Regions from separate parts of the Homo sapiens genome. Here region 1 is linked to region 2. Evidence: fine-mapped expression QTL. Tissue or cell type: whole blood. Region 2 holds a variant in brackets; the other region holds the start of a gene. All regions are shown on one strand. Distances are between the middles of the regions.

What was found. PIP is the estimated chance that this variant, and not a neighbour inherited with it, causes the effect.
Region 1: it holds the start of TMEM185A, and the variant in region 2 is fine-mapped to the expression of TMEM185A in whole blood (TOPMed, PIP above 0.99).

The regions. Positions count from the first base shown.
Region 1 is chrX:149,628,359-149,636,440 of GRCh38, reverse strand. It overlaps TMEM185A (transmembrane protein 185A), which reads left to right and starts at 4,649. Exons shown (of 7, transcript NM_032508.4): 1 at 4,649-4,898. The coding sequence starts at 4,861. RefSeq lists silencers at 4,687-5,096, 5,107-5,156.
Region 2 is chrX:149,499,952-149,508,052 of GRCh38, reverse strand. IDS (iduronate 2-sulfatase) reads left to right here and starts at 2,747. Exons shown (of 9, transcript NM_000202.8): 1 at 2,747-3,018; 2 at 3,760-3,896; 3 at 4,564-4,741; 4 at 7,016-7,104. The coding sequence starts at 2,916. RefSeq lists enhancers at 2,843-3,002, 2,995-3,496, 3,620-4,168 and a silencer at 3,559-3,658. The variant G/A (reference allele first, on the strand shown) is at 4,223.

The sequences.
Region 1 (8,082 bases), 130 kb before region 2:
GTTCATCTCACATCTTAGAACTGTACAAGCATGGTATAAGTTGTTTTATAATAAGACACAAAAAACCTCAACATGTCAATGATTTGTAGGAAAGTGGGAGTGTGGGTACCCACATAATGTCTGCAGCTATTAGAAACTTGGAAAGAAAGGGTCATTTTTCCTGCAGACACAAGTTGCCTGGTTTGAGGCAAGGGATGAGGAAGAACTGCTTTTTTGTTTGTGCCCTGTGACTGTCCAACATCAGCATTCATTTCATGACCATTGCCTGAGCACCTACTGCATGCCAGGATCCAAGAATACAGGGGCATAGTGGGAAGCATCATGGGACTCCAAAACTGACTCCTCCAAGCACAGAGAGCTGAGAGCACACGCACAGCTGCCTGTAGGCAGAGTGGGGTGGTGGGAAGGGAAGGGAGGATGGTTGCAGACAATATTGTTCTCCAAAATGGTGCACCTGCCTCCATTCACTGACTTCTGTGTTTTTACAACTGTTGTTTACTCTGCCTGGAACCTCATTTCCTCTCTTCCTACCTTACAATGTTATTTTTTCAGCTCAGCGGTTCCCTCATCCCCAATGCTTATCGTGCACAATGCTGTGTTTTCATTATTCATATCTGTGTGTTCCCAGTGCCTTCCACAGTGCCCGGCACAAAGCAGACACTCTGGAAGACATATGTCAGATGAATGCAACTAAAGGAGTGAAGGTTACAGGCTACCCAAGATGAAAGGATCCATTAGGGGAAGGCAAGATGAGGAAGAGCACATTTGATTAGTTAGGGCAGAGGGCCCCAGAGGAATGTGTCAGAAATACAGTGTGGAAACAGAAAGGGAGAAAGACAAGCATTGAGTGGAGATTCAGGAATGAGAGCAGGTTGGGAACAAGGAGAAAAAGGAATCATGTGGGCAGCTGGTTGGTGACCTTTGGCAAGCATGGGCCTTTTTGTCTGCCCCGTGTGCTTGGCCACACACACTTGACCTGGGCTTTGCATACACAGCACACTGGAGGAGTGTGGCACAGCCGGGAAGGCTTCCTGGAAACCCTGGCATCAGGAGAGGTCCAGAGGAGAAGCACAGGGATACCGTGGTGGTTTGCTGGCCCAGGCAAAGGCTCCCCATTCTGCCTTCCAACAGGAAATGGCCCCTGCTTCCTTTAGCAGAAAGCTTGCTCCATGAGGGATGATAAACCACCCACTCCCAGGGCTACCCTGGGTGACAGGAGGTCCACTGGGGCCTTGGGACTGTCCTCCCTCCCTCTTCTCTCTCAGTAACTGTAATTTGCCTACCTGAGGGAAGACTCCCTGAGGAGGTGGCTCCTTCTGGGCTCTGGAAGGCCATAGGGGTTGCTGCAAGTCCAAGCAGAACTACAGCTACTACCTCTGTGGTCCCTTCAGTTGCCTCCCTGCAATCTCCTCCTCCAGTTCTCCAAGCCCCTAAATCTAGCCCCGTATTTAATCAAATCCCTGTCTAGACTCCAGACCCACCCACCTCCCAGGGAGATCTCAGATGTGTATCCAAGTTAGGCTAAAGTTGCCTGAAACAAAGGGTTCTGTCAGGAAGCAGGAGATTGCATTCTGCAGGTGGACTAATTCCCAGCATCTTCAGCAATTCTCTAATTGGTGGCATTCAAAGTGTGGACTTTAGGGAACCTAGGGTGAGGAATTCCAGGCTAAGAAAGCCTTGCAGGCTGGCACCTCCATGTTTCCTGGCTAAAGAACTTGTCAATCTGACCTCCGAGAAGCTCTTTATAGTCCCATAGGCCTTGCACGGGACTGGATCCCAGCTGGCCCTCCCTCCACTGGAGCAAGGGTGAAACTGGTGTTGAGTTCAAATCTACTAATTCCACACTCTCTCCATTCTACTGCTGCAGCCAGGGAAGGAGCCTTGGTGGTGTGTGGAGGGCGGTTCCACGGCCATTTTCTTCCCCTATGCCAGGTCTCCCCAGTCCAAGTGTCTAAATTCACCAGGATTCTCTTCACCAGTGCCTTGCTCTTCAGAGGAGAGGCATCCTATATCACCACATTGAAGCCAATGTGAATATTGAATTGGACAAGCCACCAGCTTATCAGAAGGGTGGTACAAATCCAAGTTAGTCCTTAAAACCATGGTCAGATATACACTGATTCTTCTGGAACACTGTAACCTAAGCCCACCCCAAAGTCACCAAGAATATGCTGTCTGGCTTATTTGGGGGTCATACTTTTTCAATCCAGAGCCATTTCTTTCCTTTGAGTGAAGAATGTTGGGAGCCCCTAGCAAGATAGCCCTGGAATTTTTTGGCAAGTCAAGGAAAAGATAAAGTCAAACTCTGCTAGTGGAGAAGATGTGGGTGTCATCTTCTCCACTAGTCATACTTAGCCTTGATGTATCACCTTTCTTCTGAGAATGTAGAAACATTTAATAAGTGGTAATTAAGCTTCCCAGCACTCCTGGTGCCTGCATATGACCCAGGGTCTTTCTTTAATGTCAGGATCACTTGTGGGTCTGTCTACACAGGTCATTGAGGCTTTGGACCTCCATCTAGGGTGGGACACTGAGTGAGGGCTCTGAAGTGAGCAGCAGGTTGTCAGTAGGGTCTTTTGCACTTGCTGGAGAGAGGACCAGATGGCCATCTGGTTTCTGGCTTTTTTTTCCCCATGAGAGCACCAGTAGCATAAAGGGTTGGGCTTCCAGAATCAGTCCAGGTAATCCACCTCTTGAAGACTGGGGATGTGAAGCCTTGGGAAAGTCCAGTTCTTCCTGTATTTCCTCACAGACAGGTTCATATGTTCCTCTTGGCAATTTACCTTGTCAGAGCAAAAGAACACACTGACAAGTAATTTGTGCATCAGTGTCCTGTTGCCTTTGCTAGATAGCTTCCAGGGCCTGGTCAACTCTGGAAGAACTGCTAAAATTGAACTTGTGGGCCTGCAGAGCAGTGGTTCAGCTCCCAGACTCCCTGGGATCTCATTAAAGTAGCGTCTGCCCTCAAGATTCTGGACTCTGAGGAGCCTGCCTGGTCTCTATCTATGAAGCTCTTGAAAGGGCAGTGATGCCTGTTATTCAAGTGTCTGAACTGGCAGACCATCTTCTCATGCCTGCTTGGGGCACGGTCACTGGTAATGAAGATGGTGCTGTCCAATCTGACCACTGGCAAGCACCTCTTTCTAACAGTATGGGCTGCAGGTTCAGCTAGACCCTGAGTTTCATCTGTGCTCCTTCACCCTTACTTGCTGGCTCGCTCAGGGCCTGTTATACAAGCTTCTCTGCGCCTTAATTCCTCGTCTGTATTTGAGTGTTCATTGAGAACCTCCTCTGGGCTACACATTGGACTTTACCCAGAGGATGGGAAAGGAAGATGGGTGAAAAAGTCTGGGACAGGGTCCTGGTGCTTCAGCAGATGAAAACTTGATTTGGATTACTCAACCTTAAAATCAGCTCATATAATAATATCCATTTCCCAGTGGGTGTTGGGAAGCTTAATTACCACTTATGATATGTTTTTACGTTCTCAGAAGAAAGGTGATACATCAAGACTAAGTATGACTATCGCAATTGTGATTCTCTCAAGCTGCCCTTGGGGCTAAACAGTATAAAATTGTCATTTGTGAAACTCTGCTATTGCAACAAAGGATGACTATTATCCATAATGATAGTAGACTAATGTTTAAGGCATTGTTGTGCTCATGAAAACTTAAATCTGCCCAAAGTGAAGATGGTAAACTAGGTCACCTGCTATGAGCTTGTCCTGCTCTTGGATTCCAAAAGCAAACAAAATCCTTGAGGAGGTTGACACCTGAAAGAGTACCAGATAGCAACAGCATTCTTTGTACACCTAGCATGTACCAGGCAGTGTGTTATGCACACGATCTCACTGAATCTTCCTAACACGCTTAGAAAAGAGGTTTTTATCATTTCCATTCTGCGGAGGAGAAAAACTGAGACTCAAAGATGTTGACTTGCCCAAGGAAGATGAACCTGGTACTTGTAAGTAGGGCAGCCTGGAGTGGAGGCAGAGGTCAGGTGTGAAGTGACCACAAAGTTTAGACAGGATCCAAGGAGGCTCTGAACTGGGTTAGAAAAATGAGGATGATTTCCACGTCTCCTGCTTGAATACCCCCCTGCGTACGAATAGGCCTGCTGCTAAGGGAAAAAGGGAACCCAGGAGGGGAAGGCGGTTGGCACGGGAAGTGACTTTGGTGCTAGGTAACTTGAGTAGGGAATAGCCAGCATATCTGGACACGCTGGCTTGGGAATTGGAAGGGAAGTTGGGACCCAAACTTTGGAGTCGTTGACAGATGTGACAGGTGAAGCCTGGGATGACATCGCCAAAAATGCAACGTCTCACTCATTGTCACTACTCCCAGGGCTCAGTCGTCACTGGGGAAAATCTCCAGAAGGTAGCGCGGGCCAAGGTGACAGGTGTCTGCCAAGATCTGCCCGCCAGACTCCCGGGCGGCGCGCTCCCTCCCTGCAGGCCTTCAGCCCGTCAGCATCCCCTTCCTCGGGGCCCTGCTCACTCCCAGCCTCCATCCCCCTGCCATCTCCTCCGCCGGTCGCGTGCGGACACAAGGATGGGGACCTCCCAGCGAGGAGCGCTCTGGGCGGGGCTCCGGACGCATGCGCGGCCCTCGTACGGAAGCCCGGAAGGAGGGGCAGGGGGCGGTGGCTCAGGTTTCTCCGGGCGGCGGCGGCGGCGGCGGCGGCGGCGGCGGCGGCGGCGGCGGCGACGGCGACGGCGACGGCAGCGGGGACGGCAGCAGTAGCGGGAGCAGCAGCGTGGACGCGGCTGGCGCTGGCGCCATGAACCCGCTGTAAGGCGCAGGCTGTGCAGCACGGGGTGCGGGGGAGGAGGAGGAGGACGCCGCGGTGAAGTTCTCCGCCATGAACCTGAGGGGCCTCTTCCAGGACTTCAACCCGAGGTGAGGCGGCGTCGTTGGCGCCCCCGGGAGTCCGCGCTGCGGGCTCGGGCGCGGGCTGGTGTTCGGCTCCGGGGAGGCACGGCGGGCGAGATGCTGCAGCCCGAGGACCCGGGCGCCTGCCCGAGCCTCCCTGCGGGTGCAAGCGGTCCCCAGGCAAAACAGTCGGCCTCGGCGCCCGCCCGCTTCCTCCTCCCGTGCCCGGTGCTTTCAGCCCCTGCCCGGCCACGGCCGGAAGGGCCCGGCCGCGAGCCCCGTCCTGCCCCAAGGGAACCCCATTCTTTTCTGCTTGCTGTCCCTCATTGGTGTCCCAACTTCTTCGTCTCGGTTCCATCCTCTTCTGCGCCGCTGCGGGCCCTCCATTCTCCGCGTCAGGGCCGTCTCACTCGACCCAACACCCCTACCCCCACCCCAGCTGTTTCCTCCAGTTCCTCGCAGTCCTTGGGGTTTTCCTTGGGTTTATGCCCATCCCTCTCTTGTTTGCTTCTTTGTTGAACGGATACCTGAAACACTGTTGAATCCTTGGAGTCAGTGTCGGGGTATGGCAATACCTTATATAATGCATTTCTGGGTGAGCCTGATCATTTTCCATACTCATTTTCTCATCAGTCTTCACTACAAGTTTATTTGCAGGAAGTAGATATTGCTGTCCTTCTTTTCCAGATGGGGAACACCCAGTGGACAGTGTGGAGAAAACACTGGCTAAGCACTCAAGCGCCTGTCCTTGCACTTGCCCGACTGTTTTGTAACTGTTCTTTACCCCAGGCTGTGAGCTCCCTGAAGCTGAGACCATCTCCTGCTCATCTCAGTGTCCCCAGCGCCTCCCACCCACCGTATCTGGCACATAGTAGGCACATATAAAATGTTTGTGGAACTAAACTGAGCCCAAAGACTTGGATTGGAGACGAGGCCATATGTAACTGGGTGATTCTCTGCCCTTCTTTGGCCCTTCTGTAAAATGAGGAGTTGGCCTAACTGATCTCTTAAATGCACTACTCTCCGAAAGGAGTATCCGTTTCCCTTATTTGCCAGTTGGGAAGACGTGCTCAGTAAATATTTGTGTGCTGTAACCTATGTTAGGTGCTTTAGATGCTGGCGGTCTCAGCATGGGGTGAAGAAGGGCTTGTACACTTAAGATGCCTTACAGTACTGTGCAGTGCTGTACTGCGGGGGCCAACTCTGGGGACCTATGCCTTGGCTGCTTGTTGAGGATGAAAGGAAGTTTTAGGGGAGTATTTGTATGTTGAGGGTGCAGTCTCCCTAGGGATGGTGACATTTTAACTTGTGAGTCATTGTGACTTTGTATGTGCTCTTATTCCACTTTGAGTTCATGTTCTGGTTAGGAGTGCCAGTGTCTCTAACACGGTGCAGACATTATCATTGTTGGCTTCGAAGGCATAGAGGAGGTAACAGAACTAACTGCAGTCCCTTCCTCTGCTGCATCAGGGGGTTAAGATTGGTCTGCAGGGTAGTAGGGTTGGTGCTGTGGCTGGACAAGCCCTGTATGTCTTCTATTTGGAGATGGTGATAAGAAAGTTAAGTAAAAACTGAATTGTTTTGTGCCCTTGGGCAACTCACTTATCTATTGTTTTATCTGTAGAATGAGTATAATCTCTCAGTGGGGTAGGGAGGCCAATTAAGGATTGATTACAAAGTGCCTTACAAATAGAAAGCTACAGTGACTTGTTTGCAAGGTGACAGAGAATTCAGAAGCCTCAAGAAACTGCCTTAAGTGATCAAACAGGCTAACGGAGTTGCCAAAGCAAAATAGTGCTGCACTGATACTACCTTTAACCGTTTTTTCCTTTAGCCCTTTTCCCCCCAAAAAAATTAGTATATGAAATTACAGTGAAATACCTGGTATCTAAGCAGATTTATAGTAATTCTCAACATATTCATCAATCTCTTAATTCTACCTGCATTAAAATGTATTTCTACCTGAAAAGTTTAAAGGTCTTTTATACTGTGCCATTTTCCTGATTCATTGTTGCCAGAGGTAGTGAGTTCCTTAATTTTACAGATATTTCAAGAGGACATTGGCCAGGTATTATTGGTAAATCAGATTTGTTTTTTTAGCTGGTAGTGTTTCACCTCTCCTGAGCACTCCTAGTTTTTGACAGTGTGCTTTAGTCTCCTTCCATGCTGAGGAAGGCCTTCTCTATAGGAGAAAGAAAACTGAGGGGTGTACACAGGAAGTTACCTTATGCTGGGGACTCAAACCTTGATGCTACTGCTTTGCTCCCTGCCTCTATTTTTGAACCAATTCAACATCTCCCTCCTACCCCAGGACCTTGTCACACACTGTTCTCTTTACCAGGAATGTTTCCCTCTCTTTTCCTCTCCTCCAGACCTAGTGAACTCCTATTTATCCTCACTTGGCACTTGCTAAGGGAAGCATTCCTGACTTCCCTGACCAGATTTACTGCTCCCTGTTTCTACAGTTCCTGTAGTATTTACTACTCCTCCATCATAGTGCATATTTGTACCCTTGTGTCTGTCTGGATGCTTATTTGATTAATACCTGCCTCCCCCACTAAACTTTAAGCTCCATGGGGTCAAGGCCGTGACTGTGTCAGTATCGTAGCCTGCATACTTGGAATAGTACCTGGCTCAATAAATATTTGTGGAGTAAATAACTGAATAACTCTCCAGAGCCTATAAGATAAATCTAGAGCTGCTGCTTTCAATCACTGCTTTCCTGGTGGTCTGTGGCCTGGTTCTCTTTCTTCTCACACTCTTCCCACCTTCAGAGTGCAGCCATTGCTTTGGAGAGATGGGAGAGAACATGGCACTAAGGCAGAATATGGCTATATTTACTTTGAAGAGCATGTCTTTGTCATAGAAATAGTCACTGTCATGGTTTGGTGGGTCCCAAGGCATGGGTCATGGCTCCAGATCCCCTTTCCAGCCTTTTGGATCTTGGTAAGTCTGAACCCACTGCTGCGTTGGCAAGGCTCTGGAAACTATAGTGACAGAGAATGATTCACAAGTGTCAACACTCAGATGTACAGGGCTGCCAGCTGACCCACTCTACCTATTTCCATCTGGCACTGAACTGGTTGATCATGAACTTCTTTTCATAATTGCTTTTTAGTTATGCAGGTTAAGACATGCCGAAACAGATGTACCGGACCCACAAACAAGTCCTTCCTTGAATGCCTGAGGCTTCCTAACAGTGAAAGAGCCC
Region 2 (8,101 bases):
TAAATCACCAGGATCTGTTTTACCTCAGAAATCTTAAATTTCAGGGTCTCATTCTGGGACTAAAACCAGTACTCTCACACCCTTGCTGCCTCTCTATATCCTCACCCATCTCCTAGATCTTTGTTTGTCCCCAGTCCACCAGTCTTCTTAACCACTGTCAGCCACCTGAACTGCTCTCTTACTGGCTCTCTCCACTTGCTCCCACTCTTGTCCTTCTGCTGCTATGAGCCCCAGCAAAACCTCGAGCTTACACCAGAGCAAACAAACAACAAAAACAAACACACACAATTGTGCCAAGTGGCATATATAATTTTCTATCCCAGCTGAGACAATCAATCTTGTTAAATTTTGAATTGTTTATAGGTAGTGTTAGTTTTCTAGGGCTGCTGTAACAAAGTACTACAAATTACATGGCTTAGAACAACAGAAATGCATTGTCTTACAGTTTTGGAGGCCAGAAGTCTTAAATCAAGGTGCCAGCAGGACCATGCACCCCCTGAAACCTATAGAAGAAGAATGCTTCCTTGCCTCTTCCTAGCTTCTTGTGGTTTGCTGGCAATCATTGGCATCCACTGGCTTGTAGATGCATCACTTCAATCCATTGTCTTCACATGGATGTCTTCTCTCTATGTGTTTGTGTCTGTGTCCAAATTTTTTCTTTTGATAAGGACCCCAGTCATATTGGATTAGGGCCCAACCCAATTACCTCCTTTTAACTTGATTACCCTGTTAAAGACCCTGTTTCCAAATAAGATCACATTCTGAGGTACTGGGTGTTAGGACTCCAACATACAATTTTTGGGGGGAGGACACTAACACCTAAGTCAAAAAGGACCAAAAGACATACCATACAAAGCAAAGGCCCTCTGCCCTGCACCTTCCCTCTTCTGTTCTCATTTTAAATGTTTCTACTTTCATTTCTTCTAGTAGATTGTCCCTGTCTTTCTAAATACTATGCTATTTCTATATCAACTTTCTAATGTTTTCAACTTTAGACATTGCTGACTTCTTCCTATGATAGATGAGATCACTTATCCATTCCTCTTTTTATGTACATATTTTTAACCTTGGATTTTGGAAATTGATCAAACCTATACAAGATTACAGAAAATAGTATAATAAACCCCAGGTGTTCATCAATGAACTTCATTGGTTATCAACTCATGACAAATTTTGTTTCATCTCTCCCTGCCATTTTCCCTTCTCCTTTTACTATATAGATTTATTGCCATTTTTAAGTTTTCTATTGTTTACTTTTGTATCTTTAAGTAATATCCCTAAATCTGTATTTCTCTTTCTATGAACTGGGGACAGCGACTATTGATTTATTATTATTATTATTATTATTTTTTTGCGATAGGCTGGGGCAAAGGAGACAATCCTAAATTGCTAACCCTAAATTAATGTGCCTACATTTCCTGCCATCTCCCTTCCTCCTCCCAGCTTTTTGTCAACTGTTGCTGCAGGCCAGGTTCCCAAGGAAGCTGACTAAGATGTAGAGTAATGTGCAGGAAGTTTCTTAGGGAGTACTCTTAGGATCAACACCTGTAGAAGGGGAGGGGAGGGAAGAAATCAAAATTCAACAGACAGAGAAAGTGGGCAGTCTCAAAAAAGGCTTCAGTTAACCCCACAGGGAGCTCTGAAGCTGAAATGGCCTTTCAGAGATGTCCCAAGTTGGGGTAAGGGGCTGCACCTTTGTACCTTCAAGTTGAATCACTGATGTGGGCTTCCTGAGAACAGGGGTGACCTTGGCTGAGGTACCTATCTTTTTCTAAGACAATTTCTGATGAGGGCTAACGACAGCTAACAGCTCTCAAGCCAGCTAGGGAAATAAAATTTTTGGTGTTGAAGGGAGATCTGAGCAGTGCACCACAGCACCATCACAGCTGTATTTGTACCTTCCCATTGTCCATTGTTGTTTAGTCATAATTAAGTCATCTGGGCTTTGTTATAGATTGATTCTCAAAGTTGAAAATCAAACTGTGTTTGCAGTATTAGGACGGTATAATAGTATTCAGTACAGTACAGTGTAGGGCTAGGATTCCATCTCCCCACAATTGCTGCTCTCTCTGTTTGGCGCACCCTTCTTGCAGACCTCAATGCGGCTTGCTCCCTCACTTGCTTCAAAATTTTGTTCAAATGCCACTTCACTAGTGAGGCCCTGCCTGGCCACCCCATAGAAAATAACAAGCATGCCCCGCACCCACGCTTTATTTTTCTCCAGACCGGGTATGCCCACCGACACTCTCTATATTTTTTTATTGTTTTAAGCTCCACCAAAGCAGGGACATAGAGCCCCAGTGCCACCAACAGCGCCTGGTATACATATTTGCGATACTTAATAAGAATTAGTTGAAGAAATGAATAGGAAAGGGAGTCCCTTTAGATGGAGGAAGGGACTTTCTCAAAAGGCCTCATGGAAGGAGAATGGCATTGAGGCTGGCTTACAAGAAGTGTGTCTTTTATAAAAAGAAGGAAGGGCAGGGCTTCCAGGTGAAAGGCATAGCACAAGCAAAGGCAAAAAGACGGGTAACTGCTAGTTGTTAAGGGCAGTGGCTGAATCGCTATACCCCTAGCAGTTCTACACCTAGGGGCCTGCGGGCCGCTGGGTCTGCGAAGCTTGCAAGGCAACTGGCCCGCCCCCGCTCTGCGCCTGTCTCTCGGCCACGCCTATTGCTGCAGGATGACGCGCACCTCTAGAACCCGCCCCGGAGGGGAGGGACGCAGGGAAGAGTCGCACGGACGCACTCGCGCTGCGGCCAGCGCCCGGGCCTGCGGGCCCGGGCGGCGGCTGTGTTGCGCAGTCTTCATGGGTTCCCGACGAGGAGGTCTCTGTGGCTGCGGCGGCGGCTGCTAACTGCGCCACCTGCTGCAGCCTGTCCCCGCCGCTCTGAAGCGGCCGCGTCGAAGCCGAAATGCCGCCACCCCGGACCGGCCGAGGCCTTCTCTGGCTGGGTCTGGTTCTGAGCTCCGTCTGCGTCGCCCTCGGATCCGAAACGCAGGCCAACTCGACCACAGGTGCCGCCCACGCCCTCCCTGCCATCTCTTCTCCCTTCCTCCCTCCCTTCCTTCCTCCTTCCTTCTTTCCTTCCTTCTTTGTTTATATCCATTCTTTTTACCCTTCCTCTCTCCTACCATTCCTTCTTTCATCCATCATTCGTTCCCTCCCTCCATTTTTCACTCCTTCCTACCGTCCCTTCATCCCTCCCTTCCCTCTTTCCATCTATTCATCCATCCATCTCCTATCCCTCCGTGCTTCCCTTCCTCTTTCCCCCCATCTTTCCCATCTCTATCCATCCATCTTTCCCCCTCCTTTCCTCCCTCCATTGGTCCATCCGTCCCTTTTACCTTCTATCCATTCATATTTCTCTCTCTTCTCCCCTCCTTCTCTCCATCCTTTCTTCCCTTCAGCTATTCATCTTTTCCTCCTTATCTTCCTCCATCCAACCATCTGTCCTTTCCTGCATACATCATTCTCTTTTTTTCCTAAATTCATCTTTCCTTTCCACCATCTTTCACTCACTATCTCGCTTCCTCACCCAGGTTGGAGGCCATGACCAAAGCCTAACCCTGCCACCCAGGACTCAGGCTTCCTCCTCGAGCCCCACTCCCACCCTTGCTGAGGCACAGCGCCCTCCCTGGCTAGGCTGTTAAGGTGCAGGGTCCAGCCTTGGGCCTCTTAGTAACCTAGCACCTACCATGAGGGAGGGTTCAGTGTCAGTGCAGGTTACCTCACCAAAGCCCCTCCCTCCTGTGTAGATGCTCTGAACGTTCTTCTCATCATCGTGGATGACCTGCGCCCCTCCCTGGGCTGTTATGGGGATAAGCTGGTGAGGTCCCCAAATATTGACCAACTGGCATCCCACAGCCTCCTCTTCCAGAATGCCTTTGCGCAGGTATGTCTGGGAACCTCTAGCTGTGGGTGTGTGCTGCTTCGTGCACTGAGGGTTGGGGGCGGGGAGCTTCAGCTATTGTCAGATGGCACAGATTGTGCGGGACATCTTGTTAGAGGGAAGCATAGTCTGGAAAATGGTAGTGGAGAAAATCTGGTTTTCCACTCATGGGAAAGCTTGACCTTCAAGGGTGGCCTTCTCCTTGGGTGCAAGGTGCGCCCTGGCCCTGATGTGTTCATGGCAGCCCTGGCCAGCTTTCTCCCAGAACGGGCGCTTGCCTGGTGCTCAGAAGGAAGGGGTGCTGCAGAAGGGCACCCACAGGTCTGCAG[G/A]CTGGGCCTCAGGTGAGAGCTAGCCAGGGTGGCCCTGCTCCCTGAACCCCCTCATGGCTCTGCCCCCAGCAACACTGGCCGCTCTGTGTGCCTGGGGAGGCCATTGCGTAGGAGGAGATAAGCATCTGCTGGTTTCAGGGGCTGATTGCTTCCCTTTTCTCTCCCGGAAGCAGTCTGTTGCCTAGGTGACACCCAAATCCCAGTGTCTGGTTTGAGCTCTGCATGACTCAGCTACCAAGCTGTTTGCTAGGAGCCTCGGGAGGGCGGTTGCTTGGTTACCTAAGAGATGGCAGACATGTTTTGCTGTGGCGATGCTTACCTCTGCTTCTGCTCCCTAACAGCAAGCAGTGTGCGCCCCGAGCCGCGTTTCTTTCCTCACTGGCAGGAGACCTGACACCACCCGCCTGTACGACTTCAACTCCTACTGGAGGGTGCACGCTGGAAACTTCTCCACCATCCCCCAGTACTTCAAGGAGAATGGCTATGTGACCATGTCGGTGGGAAAAGTCTTTCACCCTGGTACTGCTCCATGTCCAGAGTCTGGGTTCTCTTGGTTTGTGGTGTCTGAATCCAGCATTCCCATCCTGGGGATGGGGCTGTCTTTGCAGAGCCCTCTTCTGGCTGGGCGAGTCCCTCGCTAGTCAGTGCTTCCTTTCTAAAAAACTGACTTGTCAACCCAGCCACGTTTTCACCCAAAGTGAAAAAGGGTAGAAAGAGCTTTGCTTCCTTTCAGAAACCACTGAGGGTGTGCTGTTGGGTCTTTCAGCTCCTCGGGTGGTAGGGAGGACACAGGCTGGGGAGGTGGCAGTGTTGGGTGGAGTCCAGCTCAGGGCCCCACCCTCTCCCCTGCAGGGTACCTGTCAGTAAACCTAGGGGTGGGGTGAGGACACCTGAGGGCCTCCCGTGTGGCCAGCATTGCTGTTGCTGACTTATTGCCCAATGAGGGGGCTGTGCTTAGGTAGGGGCTGCTATCCACTCTGGAAATTAAGTCAGAAAGATGAGTGTAATCTGGTACCCAGGATCTATAGGGTCCCAGAGACGGACATTCCTTACCTCAAATGCTGCCTGATAAACTGGCTCTCTTTAATGCCAATATGGGGATAGTGAAAAGCAAACAAACTTTAAAACTTTTTATTTATAGAAGTAATGCATGAGTATTTGAGAAAAAAAATGGAGAAAAAAGTATTGGAAGACAAGAGCACCATAGGGACAATAATGCTTATCATTTGGGAATGACGAATGTTTTCAGTCTCTTTCCCTTTGCTCAGTGGTTACACCGGCAGGCTTGGCAGCCTTCTGCAGGAGCTCAGCTGGCCAGCCCAGGTTGAGAGTGACATTCAGCTCTACTAAGTCAGGCCAGTTTCAGAGGTGAACCTGTCAGGAATCATATTGCACAGCCAAAAGTCCAGTGTCAGGAGAACTTTCTGCAGTTTGGTGTTCTCATTACCATACCCCTTGCCCAAATGCAGCTGGAGGGAAGTGATGATTTTGGAGAGAGGAGGAAACACAGCAGAGGGAGGAGATTGTGCTTTGGGAGGGGAAACCAGGCAAGGACTGAGTGATGTTGCTTGACCTCCTCCCTCCTGATGATTGGATTTTGGCACCAGGCTCTAAGCACCATGTCCTTCTCAGAGAATAAACCTTTCCCTGCAGCCCTTGTGGGAACACATTTTTCAGCTGAATCTTTGTTCTCAAGACCTTTTTCTGTTAGCATTGGGCCTGCTTCAAGATGACAGTAGCCACCACTGTGTGCCAGGTATGTACCGTTTACCATGCTGGCCACTCCTTTAATCCTCCCAACAGCAAGCAAGGTGGGTTTTTATCATCATCATCATTTCCCAAGGAAGACATGAAGGCTCATGGGAGTCAAGTAGCTTGCCAGAGGTTGCAAGGATGCTAAGAGGCAGCATCAGGATTTGGACCTGTGGTTGTTGGCTTCCTGTGTGCTCTTTCCACAGTGCTTGCTGTCTTCATAGGCCCTCCACCCGCTGCCCTCTTTCTCTCCATTCCTGTCTCTTCTGGTACTCCCTATGGGAGTCCCACTGTGTGACTGCTGCTGATGCTTTCTCACGAGGTTCTGCCTGTGATCCCCTCCACTCCCAGCTAACCACTATAGGCAGCACTTCCCTTCAGATCCCTCACAGGCCTCACTGGCTCCTAGAAGTCCTCCCTGCCAGTCCTCACCTGACTCACAATAACCTCTGTGCTTGGAGGATCCCCCACTTGGCACTTCGATGCTTTTGAAAGCTGGAAGTCCTTCCTTGGTTTCCAGTGCTGTTATACTGTCTTCACAAATAAACTATAAACTACTAAGCTTAAGGGTGGGTTTCTGCTTCATGAATGAGCACTTGAACTTGGAATTCTAAAACAAGGTTTTGAGTCCTGGCTCCCTTATCTAATATCTGGTTAGCATAGGTAAGTCACATACCTTCCCTGAGCCTCCCTCTCCTGCCCCCATCGGCTCCCTGATGGTGCTGATGCCTCTGCTGCCTCCTTCATAGGGTGAGAGATAGGTTTCAGCATGGGCTCTAAGGAGCTGACTGATCTTGTCCTTGTGGGTCCCTTCCACAGAGCCTAGCACAAATCATCAGGGCTTAGGGACCAGGAAGTCAGATGCTTAGTTCTCAAATAGAAACTAGAGAGTTTGGCTTTAGAGGGGACCTTTTGTAGATGAGGAAACTGAGCCCCAAAGAAGGGAGGTTCCACTTGCCCATTTGTTTACAGAGTTTTAATTATGGGGAGTGGGGTGTTGAAAGACTCATCATGTTTTAACAACCTTTTTTTTTTTCCAAGGGATATCTTCTAACCATACCGATGATTCTCCGTATAGCTGGTCTTTTCCACCTTATCATCCTTCCTCTGAGAAGTATGAAAACACTAAGGTAAGGCTGTGAAAGGGACATTTCTGAAGAGGAACCACTTTTTCCTTTGTCACATAAACTACTGGGTATACTGCATGTTCTGTGAAGCTGGTTATATACCACGAAGTTGTGGGTTTCATTTGTGATAATGTTTTGACAGAAGTAAGTGTTGGGATCTTCAGCATTAGGCCCGACAGGAGCAGTGGCTTCATTCTAGAAGCTGGTGGGTGCTACTTGTTCTAAAACCTTGGGCTCTAACGTGTCAGACTCATTGAATAGCTCCCCAGTGCTCACGCTGGATGAGACTGAGAGTTGTAGGAGATGCTGAGACATGGGAGGGAGAAAAGAGGCTGAGCTCCAGGAGCCTCAGCCCAGAATGGGAGAAAGGCATGCCGTGTATCTGTCTCTGACCTAATGTGTATGTTCAGCAGCTGAGACCTCTGATAGGGGTTTTGAATTTTTAGAGCATTATGAAAAAAAGTAACCTACAAAGAAAATCTTGGTTTAGAGGAATCCCAAATGTATAAATGAAACTAAAACCCACATTTAAGAAACTCAGAAAACCAGCTAGGGAACTGAGACATGAAATGTATCTCTGAGGTTTTAGTAAACATCGTGTTGGGAAGGGTGAGGATTTGGAAGTGAGGTGGAAGGTATTGTTCTAAGTTCTTGACAGCTTTCCATTTCAGAATACAGTGAAAACTGTGAGCTCTGGCCTTTGGCTTGTGGCTTGAATAGGGAAGATCCCATCTTAATTCCCTGAAGCCATCTTGCTTCTTTTTAGTGGCCTCACTTACGAATGCCAGGTCCCTGCCCTAACTGCCCCCTACCCATTTCTTCTCAAAGTGGTGGGTCTGACAATACTAAATCTCCCTCGAGTGCTGCAAATCGTGTATATATAGATGATGAACAAGTGGTCTGAGGCGGGTGCTGGGCTGTCCTGCCCAAGGGTGGGGTGAGCAAGGCAGGGCTGTGAAAAGGCAACACTCTTTGAGATGGAACAGCAGCTGACACAGCC